Regions from separate parts of the Homo sapiens genome. Here region 1 is linked to region 2. Evidence: fine-mapped expression QTL. A gene starts in region 2. The other region holds a variant in brackets. All regions are shown on one strand. Distances are between the middles of the regions. Region 1 overlaps PARD3B (par-3 family cell polarity regulator beta). Region 2 holds the start of PARD3B (par-3 family cell polarity regulator beta).

Evidence for each region. PIP is the estimated chance that this variant, and not a neighbour inherited with it, causes the effect.
Region 1: its variant is fine-mapped to the expression of PARD3B in blood mononuclear cells (TOPMed, PIP above 0.99).

The regions. Positions count from the first base shown.
Region 1 is chr2:205,379,244-205,384,643 of GRCh38, reverse strand. The region is part of intron 18 of PARD3B (par-3 family cell polarity regulator beta); the gene reads right to left. Among named protein-coding and RNA genes, the nearest start is that of NRP2, 300 kb to the left of the region's middle. The variant G/A (reference allele first, on the strand shown) is at 3,234.
Region 2 is chr2:204,543,467-204,548,866 of GRCh38, reverse strand. PARD3B (par-3 family cell polarity regulator beta) reads right to left here and starts at 3,392. Exons shown (of 23, transcript NM_001302769.2): 1 at 2,748-3,392. The coding sequence starts at 2,867. RefSeq lists a silencer at 3,356-3,405.

The sequences.
Region 1 (5,400 bases), 840 kb before region 2:
ACAAATTAACCTCAGGCTTTGCCGTGGAGAGCACATAGACACAGCTAGGAAGGAAAATAGAGCTAGGAGGTTGGCAGTTTCTGAGTAGGAGTATATTATTTTAGGTGGACTTTTAGGACTGACCATAAGTCCATCATTGAATCAACAAGTACCAAGCATTATATAGGAATCAAAAATAGTCAAAGACACAAAATCCCTACTCAGATCTATTTTACTAGAGTGTCATCAATTCTCAGTGACTCAGAGGCTTTTTATCTCCTATGTAGATTACCCACAGCCTGTGCTTCCCCTTTTTCTCTGTCTTTCCATTTTTATGGTCACCTGAGGACTCATTAGTGCTCCTACCAGAGGATAAGTAAAGGAAGGGAAAGGATATAAAACTTAAAGTGAGTCAATTTTGCTACCTTTAAGTAGTTGAGGGAAGAAGAAGTAGCTATTATAAGGCTTGCAGATTATGTGAAGATTTCAATTATCCATTCTCTCTCTGTCAAACTTACCAAAAATAATTAAGGGTTGGCTGTAACCCTCCTTGGAATGTTAAAATGACTGATGGTTGTGGCAAGTAACCACAGTAAATAAGATGAAGTGAGGTAAACTGTGCTAAGGGGAGATAAAAAACATAGTTTCAAGTCAGTTTCAGAGTCCCAAAGGAGCAATCCAATAAGCATCAAGCCAGTGGGCAATTTTATAAATATAAACATTAGATGCATGGGCAAGAATCACAAATTAGGTTAGAAGAAGGAAGTAAACACCCATGCAACAGTATACTACTCACACGGCAACCTATGAACACCAAGTACATTTTGCTAATGAAAGAAGCCAGATCCAAAAGGCTACATATTGTCTGGTTCCATTCATTACATACCAGGAAGATGAAACCACAGAGATGGAAACCAGATCAGTGATTTGAGGGGTGAGGGGGAAATCTGGGGTTATGGAACTATTCTGTATCATGACTGTGGATGCATGACTCTTTGCACTTGTAAAACCCATAGAACTGTATACAACAGAGTGAATTTCACCGTATGTACATTAAAACAATCAACCAAGGTATGGAGGGAACCCAAACAGATATACAAACTATAACAAGTGAAGCTAATGTTATTACAAATAACTAACATAACCACACTGAAGGGCTTGAGAAAGAAAATAACTAAGTATCATTAGAAAACCGTATTTTGAGAAAATACCACAAAGCTAAAGGCAAAAAGAAATGTACACAAGTACTGCACTCTGCTTAGTACTAGGGTATGGATTAGCAATTCTGAAAAAAAATTTATGAATATATGAGGGTTGAACAAATAATTATATTGCAGATAGTCAGAGACAGCTTTCTTACTGCATGAGAAAGAAGTTACAAATAATGAAAGAGGAAGAGGCTAGAATGATTACTGTGGTATTGGATTAGAATTGGAGGTATCAGTATAAACTCATGGTTTTTTAATGTGCATACAGATAGATTTGGAAGTAAATATAGATATGTGTAGACATAGTTTAGATCGATCTATCTATCTATCTATCTATCTATCTATCTATCTATCTATCTATCTATCTATCTATGTAAACTTTCCAGGTTCTGTTTCCTGAGAGAGTCTAGAAACAATGATACTCAAGCAATGAGTATTCCTAGAGCTCAGATCTTGGTTTCTACAATAAAGGAGCCAGACTTCCTCGGAGAAGTGGTTCATTCCTGGGCTGTGGCGGGGAACCTATGAGGTAAACTTACAGCATTTCACGGTGCCAAAAAATAAGAAACTTCTTCAAAAGGTATGGACAAGTTAAAATGGAACATGAGCTATCCTGAAAATGCTCCCAGTGGCCAATACTGAATAATCTGAGCAACAAAATAAATGATAGGCCTAGATTATAACCCTTAGAATAAAATAAATATCCATGAATCTCATAATGACATAACTAAGCGAATAGAGACATTAGTGGTGGGAGAAAGTATAGTTCTTCCTTAGATAAGAATTCCAATTAATGAATGTAGAAGGAATTAGTGCAACAGGAAATCACCATTGAAACACCATGGTAACTATTGCTACTGACAAGAACCACTAATGGATGGTAAAAGTTGTGGGTGAAAACATGAAAAGAAACAGGATATTTGCATAGTTTCAAAATATCTTCCCCAAGATATGTATTAATTACAAAGGGAAAAATCGTAACTTCATAGTGAAGAAACCCAGCGGACATGGCTTAATGAAATGATCAAGATGAACATCACTAGTTATAAGATACATCAACATCATGTACTTCCTAAGAAGAGTATATCACTTCAGCAGTATTCAAGCCAAAAATGCATAACCTCAATCTAATCATGGTAAGAAAAACCCAAATTGAGTGACATTTTACAAAATAACTCACTACTACATTCCAAAGTAACAAGGTCATGAAAGATAAGGAAAAAGGGAAGAACTGTCACATAGCTAGCACAGGGGACCAAGGAGTTACAACAAATAATGCAATGTTGTATCCTGGATTAGATACTGAAACAGAAAAAGGACATTAATGGAAAAACTGGTGAAATTCAAATAAGTTTTGTAGGTTAGTTAATAGTTTTGTAACCATGTTAATTTCTTAGTTTTGGTCCTCTGTACCATCGTTACGCACTATTTTAACATTGGGGGTAATTATTGGGTAAAAAGTATATGAAAACTGTGCTACTTCTTTGCAAATTTCTGGTAGTCTAAAACTGAAAAAGTTTTAAACAACAAGAAGGAAAAGGAGAGAAATGATTAGGAAAGGTTAAAGAAGGAAATGCATAGTTATTTCTGTTCTGCTTGATGCATCCCTCTAGTTTCTTGTTAGACCTTGTACTAATTCCCCTTTCCTACTCATTAACTGCAGTCCTCCCCCAAACAGAAATATATACATTGTCTACATGTTTCTGAGCTTTTCAGATATAGGTTTATTAATTTAATTGTCTACCAATACATACCACTCTCCGTTCGCTTTTATTGGTTGGGAAATCACTAGATTCAAAGGAAACGGACATGAAGCTAGAGCATAAGCAATGGAGATGGGAAGACTGGCATTAACGCTAGCTGGAAGGATTACTCTAAAACAGTACAAACAAGTGGTAAAGATGACGAGCAGAAATGGGTAAAACTAGAGGAGACAAATTAGTAGATATGCAAACCATAAATATACAGTACCTTCCGACCTTCCAAAGCTTGGCATTATCTACTTTGAACACAGCCTTTTGAGGAAGTTACTACTTAACGACATAT[G/A]TAATTAGCAGATCTATTATGGAACACTTGATTTTGATTAGCAAGCATTGAAGAAATGCAAATATGAGCAGCAGTTGTCATTGTGACAAAAAATTGTGAATTTTGTGTGTACTATATACCATGGGCAAATAAATGTCCACATATATATTATATATATAACATATATTCTTTTTATATATATTATATATAATATATATTCTTTATATATTATATATAATATATATTCTTTATATATATTATATATTCTTTATATATATTATATATATTATATATTCTTTATATATAATATATATAATATATATTCTTTATATATTATATATTCTTTATATATAATATATATAATATATATTCTTTATATATAATATATATTCTTTATATATAATATATCATATATATTCTTTATATTATATATATTCTTTAGATATTATATATAATATATTCTTTAGATATTATATACATTATATATTATATATATTCTTTATATATTATATATATTCTTTATATATTATATATATTCTTTATATATTATAATGTATTCTTTATATTATATATAATGTATTCTTTATATTATAATGTATTCTTTATATAATATATAATATATTCTTTATATATTATATATAATGTATATTCTTTATATATTATATATATTCTTTATATATAGTATATATAATGTATATTCTTTATATATAGTATATATAATGTATATTCTTTATATATAGTATATATGTTTATTCTTTATATATTATATATAATATATATTCTTTATATAATATATAATATTCTTTATATAATATATATAATATATATTCTTTATATATTATATATAATATATATTCTTTATATATTATATATAATATATATTCTTTATATATTATATATAATATATATTCTTTATATATTATATATAATATATATTCTTTATATATTATATATAATATATATTCTTTATATATTATATATATGTATTCTTTATATAATATATAATATATATTCTTTATATATTATATATAATATATATTCTTTATATATTATATATAATATATATTCTTTATATATTATATATTATATATTCTTTATATATTATATATAATATATATTCTTTATATAATATATAATATATATTCTTTATATATTATATAATATATATTCTTTATATATTATATATAATATATATTCTTTACATAATATATAATATATATTCTTTACATATTATATAATATATATTCTTTACATATTATATAATATATATTCTTTATATAATATATATTCTTTATATAATATATATAATATATTATGTATAATATATATTTTTAACATATATATACATATTTTTTTTTTTTTTTGAGGCAGAGTCTCATTCTGTCGCCCAGGCTGGAGTGCAGTGGCATGATCTCGGCTCACTGCAACCTCCATCTTCTGGGTTCAAGCAATTCTCTTGCCTCTGCCTCCTGAGTAGCTGGGACTACAGGTGCGTGCCACTGTGCCTGGATAATTTTTATATTTTTAGTAGACACGGGGTTTCACCATATTAGCCAAGATGGTCTCAGTCTCCTGAACTTGTGATCCACCCGCTTTGGCCTCACAAAGTGCTGGGATTATAAGTGTGAGCCACTGCACCTGGCCCCACACATATATTTTTAAGAACAAGTATTCAAGTAATAAGAGCTCTCACTGTAATACCTGCTAATTTGTATTAATGCAGAGATATAAGATGCTGCCACTTTTTTTGTTTGCCAATTACTAGGATGGTACATAGTAAGCAGAGAATTAGCCAATTTTGCTAATTAGTGAATTTTGCTAAAGAGTGTGGGTAATACAGAAGTCATTTATGAAATTATATTTTAAAATAACAATGTAAAATAATAGCTCATATCTTCTCTTTGCCAATATACTGGTCAAAATCAGAGTCTATGTTTGCTTTTTTTTTAAAAAAAACCCCAAATATAATAATATTAGACTTCATCATAATCATGGAACATGGGTACATTCTGGATTCGTCCCTAAAGATTCAGCATGCACATGTAGATTTCACCTAACAGTTGTCAAGTGTCCAGGTTCACTGGAGGCCAATCCCATGAAACTCAGAGAGGAGGGACCTGTCTGCCTGTCAATATTAATCTCCATGAATTATAACCCGGTATTTGATTGCCTCTAACATTTTTGGTGG
Region 2 (5,400 bases):
AGCACTCGCCACCTGGATGTCTAAGATCTTGCCCATTTTCCCATTTGTAGTTAGACTGAGGAATATTTTTCATAGTTGATTTGCAAATCCTACAATATTTGCCTCAGAAACTAGATTTTCTACATGTAGACCTCATAAAATATATAATTAAGAGAAACTTGTGGATATCCCATCACTATTCCAGAAGCAAAATTGCTATTTTTAGGTTGATGTGATATAGCAGTTAGTAGATGGAAATGTCTTTTTAAATCAAGCATTAAAAAACAAACAATATGGATAAATTCCAATTCATAACAACATACATAGTACTAGGCTATGCAGTTAATGGCTGAGAGCAAACATCTAAAGACACAGTTCCTGGTTTCTAAACCCAAATCTACGACTTACTTGTCATGTCTCTGTGTCTCTTTTTCCCCTGATTTGTAAAATGGGGATAATAATAGTACCTATCTCCTAAGGTTGTTGGGAGAAATAAGTCATAAGCATGAAGTTCCTAAAACAGGGCCTGCACAGAATAAGCACAATACATGTTACATGTTAGTGTGATTATTATTACGAAGTGCAGAAATTCACTGATTTACAGAAAGTGAATTTACTACACATTGTTTTTCAAATTGAATTTTGACATTTCTGGCCTTTTCTCATTTAAAAAAAATGAATAAAAGCATGGAATTTGTTAGGGTATTTATTGACCTTTTAGTGCCATTATGAATACGATTTAATATTCGTTAAATCTTGTTATGATTACAATATTATTTAAAATAAAACTATGGGAGAAGAATACTTGGGGAGGGGAAAAATCATCACCTACTACTTCTTAAAATGAAATTTTAAAAGTGAAAATAAGAGGAAGGATTTATATGCTGCAGGTGACCTTTAAATGTCACATTCACTAATATATAAATGTAAACAGAAAAATATAAGTCTGGTAATAATAGTAAACTGATCAATGCAACTACATTGTTCTGTGATATTATAAGTTACGTTTCCATTCCAGAATGTCAATATTTTAACACCTTTTAAGATCAAATTATAGTGAATTAAATATCAGCTGGTTAGTTCTCTTCATGTTATTTACAAGCTTGTAGTTTATCTCTTACTTGGATAGCCCCCTGTACTAAACTTCTAAATATACAAGATTTGAGGGCATAAATTATTTAATAGTTAAAAAGTAACTTCAATTTGGTAAGACAATCCCTCAATGAGATCTATTTCAATAATCTGTCTGGAGTAATGTTGTTACTATTAATCTTAGCTCACTTTCAAAAGTTAGTGAAATATGATTTAATAGACAATTGGTTACTTGTTTAAACATCAGTTAACTGAATTACATGATTTAAACAGCAAACACTATTTTAACAATGGCAAACACATATGCACGTGCACACACACACATAACATTGCAGTTGATTTTCACACAGCTTTATAAACCACTTTAATTTTTTCCCTCCTCCACCTCAATTCCATCAGTAAAGAGTTCATCTTTAGGGGTTATATTTAATATATTAATAGACCTTTCATTGTACTCTCCTCCAGTTCTTGAGTATCCAAAGCAATATGCACATGTATCTGTCCAGAGCTGAATTTTTTTTCTGTATAATAATTCTTCATGGAGGCAAAGAAGGTGCAAGTATTTTCTTAAACCCCTAAGCTATACACTTGTAAGAAACAATTACTTTTATGCTTTGGATAACCGATAAGAAGTTAAAAGAAATTAAAACTTACGTTTTTCCATCACTAGATTGACCAACCCACTATTTTAGTCACATGGCACGAGACCAAATATTAAGAGAACCATTGGCCGCTAAAACAAGAATTTGTGACTTGCCCTGTTTGAGGAGCATTTGGGACATACAAAATGTTCCATGTGAAGATTCAAAAAATTAAAAGGTTATTCAATGCCTTCCTTTAAAAGTTTCACTGAGGAAGTCCCAGAGGCCCAATGTTACCCAAATACTTGGCATAAGTTCTAGTGCCAGATATTTTCTCAACATGTATTGCACACTTAAAAAAAATTGTCACTTAATTTATACTTGTTCCTGACTTCAGCTACAGAGCTAGGAACGTCTTTCTCATTTTAATAGTCACTCAGGACCTGACAACAGCCCACACACATAGTAAATGGTCATAGAATCTGTGACATTAAACTGAAAACACTCAAAATGTAGACAGGTTGGCTAAGCAAACAGCATGCTCCCACCTGTGTTCCTGCCCAAGTCACTGAGACAGGGCAGCTCACAAGGCTGAAACTCCAAAGGCCCCATCAGTTGTAACTTCCGAGTATGTGTCACTTGCACAATCAACTTTCTAACTCCAAGGAGCCTAAGTGAGGCGGGCCTTAATGGGTCAAAAATCACACTTAGGTGAGCAGCACCTTTTAAGACGTTCCCTCAAACAAGTTCTAAACCAGTGGTTCTCAAACTTCAGTGGGCATTCCAATCACCTGGGGATCTCGTTAAAGAGCAGATCCTGAGTCGGTGGGTTTGGAGAACTGCCCATATTGGGCAGTTCTAAGAAGCTCCCAAGAGATTCCAATGCTGCAGGTCCACTCACGACCCTCGGAGCTCAAGGCCCACAAACACCCAAAGACACCCACATCACTGATATTAGCAATAGACAACAGCTGCAGCTACAGGCAGTGCCCCATAATCCCCTGGGTTTTCTGCATCCCCTGAGTGTCGCCACCGGGTCGCACCTGGCAGGTGCCTTGGCTGCAGCCGCGCCCCACTCCTCCGCGCCGCGCTCACCTTCTCCCGGGTCTTCAGGTACCGCTGCAGCGCCTGCTGGGTGAGCTCGCCGACGCGCAGCTGGCCCTCCTTGCAGGGCACCACGATGCCCGTCCTGCCGAAGCACACGGTCACTTTCATCCTGGCCCCCGGCGACCACGCCGGGCCGGGCCGAACAGGTGTCTGACCCCGCGGGCGCAGCCCCCACTCTCGGAGGACGCCCGGGGCGGGTGGGCCCAGAGACCCGGGGCGCCGCTCCCCGGAACACCCTGAGGCCCGGAGGCTCGCGGCAGCGCCCCTTCCACCTGGCCAGGCGGCAGGTGGCGGGAATCGGGGAGGGGCGGCCGCGGAAAGGGGTTACCTCCCAGGTGCCCGGCGGCCCGGGACGCGGCAGCTCCGCGGCACCGGCTCCTCCTCCTCCTCCTCCCGCTCCTACTCCTGCCCGGCCCAGGCGGCTGCTCCGCGCCCACCAAAGCGAAACTGCCGGCCCTGCCCTGTCGCTGGTCCTGGCCCTGGCCCTGGCCCTGGCGGCGTTGGCAGGGCCGGCCCCAAGCCGGGGGCTGGAGTGGGCGGCGGCGGCGGCGGCGCACGGGGCCAGAGTTGGGAGGAAACTTTTGCGCCGGCTCCCAACTCCTCTGCGGCGCCCGCGCTCTGGGCTCCTGCGGTCCCGGCGACGGCCTGGGCCCGGCTCTTAAAGGGGCCGCGGCGCTCCCGGGCCCCGCCGCACGCTGGGCGACGACGTGCCCCGGCCCTGCGGGCCAGTAACTGGAGCCCGGGAGCCTCGTCTCGTCACCTGGGTCTCTCCCTGGCTCTCTCCCTCTCGCACGCATGCACACGGAGCTCTGGGGAGTTGTAAGGGGACCTGAGGGCTACACGCTCGAGGATTGAAACCGGATCTCAGAAAGAACACCCGAGGGAAGAGCGAGGAGACTGCAGAGCTGCGCCCTTCACAGGAGGGGACTGCAGCAAGATGCAAAAGGAGCCCAGGAGCAGGTGCTTCTAGTCACGCCCACCAAAAACACCCAAGGGGCGAGGCTGCCGGGTGCGGAGATGCAGGAGTGCCCCGAGGGCCTGTTAGGAACTCGCCTTAAGCACAGCCCGTGCCGCTGCCATCAGGAGCCCTGGGATAGCAGAGCTGAAGCGAACCTTGGAGAGAACGCGCCAGTGGAAACTTTTCCTTTTACAGACCCTCGAGGACACTGAGTATTTGGCCAAAGGTCACACCCAAGACCCAGATATGATCGCGTGTGTTGACACATAGCCTTCTGGAATGCGACTACCGTTGTGCATTTTATTAGGAAAAAAAAAAGTTAACACCCTTAGGCTCATGATTTGGCAGGTGTGTATCCATCACCAATTGAAATGGGAATATGTGGGGGAAACCAACAAATTACGTTAGTTTCATTCTTAGCTCTCATGTAAATGAGCTCCTTTGAGCTTAACAACTACCCGGTAGGTAGATATTATTCTTCGCATCTTGTGCATCAAGAATGGTGCTCGGAGAGGTCAAGAGACTGAGCAGACCATGGTGTTAGTTCTGTTGAAAAGAACTCAGGTCTTCTGAGCTCAATCTCTGGTCTCTCCCTGCAGTTTTCTTAGCCATCCAGTTCATCCAGCAAGACCCTCAGGGCTGCATCATGTGTTTCTCTACAGAAGGATGTGCTCCTATGTGGACACACTTAAATTGAACGTGAATTGCCTAGGATGGTATGATAATGCAGAGGAGATTAAATTCATGGGTTTCAAGAGGTTTTTTAAAAAAATAAATTTTAGCTCATTCATACATTCAGTAAGTATATATTGGTTGTCTTCTATGTATAGAAAGTCAGTGGCAAACCAAGAGGATCACGTAAACCAAGTCCATTGTAATTTGGTTGTAAATCCAATACAAACTAATTTACATTTAAATAAACCAAAGACAGAATTGATCACCTCATAAAATCAGAAGATCCAGAGGGCACTCCATTGAGGCAAGGTTGAAAGCAGGAACTCAAACTATGTCCTCAGGGGCCAGCTAGCTCTGTCCAGCTCTTAGCTCTATCTGTTCCTCAGTGTGGTCTCCATTCTCAGGCCAGCTCTCTTCAAAGGAGACACTTTATCCTCTTTTTAGAGATGAGGAGCTGAGGCCAAAGGAAGTTAAATGATTTAGTTAAAATCTCATTCTTAGAAAGTAGCAGAGGCTGGCTTAAAACCCAGGTCATCTGATTCCAGAGTCTTCATCGTAACTGCTGTGCTGTTTCTTACATGAGAAGTACCAATGAGTGAATCAAACAAACAAATAGATACTGATGCCGTGCATTAATGTGTGGCCCTCACTTTTAATATTCGGTATTTCATGGACCTATAGAATGGTACAGAGCAAAGATTTTCCACTGATGAAATAACTTTGCATGTTGCCATCCTTCCTGCATCGTGGCTTTTTGCTTTACAGTTGCTCCAGACTCATTTTCTTCTGCTTGGGTCATGAATAGCTCCTCCTCTTCGCCACAAATTCCCTCTTAGCCCAGCTTTAGCTCCTTCCCAATATCTAGAACCTCCCACCCCAAGTCCTGGCTTTGATAATCCCCAAGTGAACCATAAAGAACACTCCGGCTCTCCCAGTTCCACTTGGGAAGTTGGAATCGGGACCTAGGGGATGCAGCAGAGGCCATGCCATTGTGAGATGAAGGAAGAG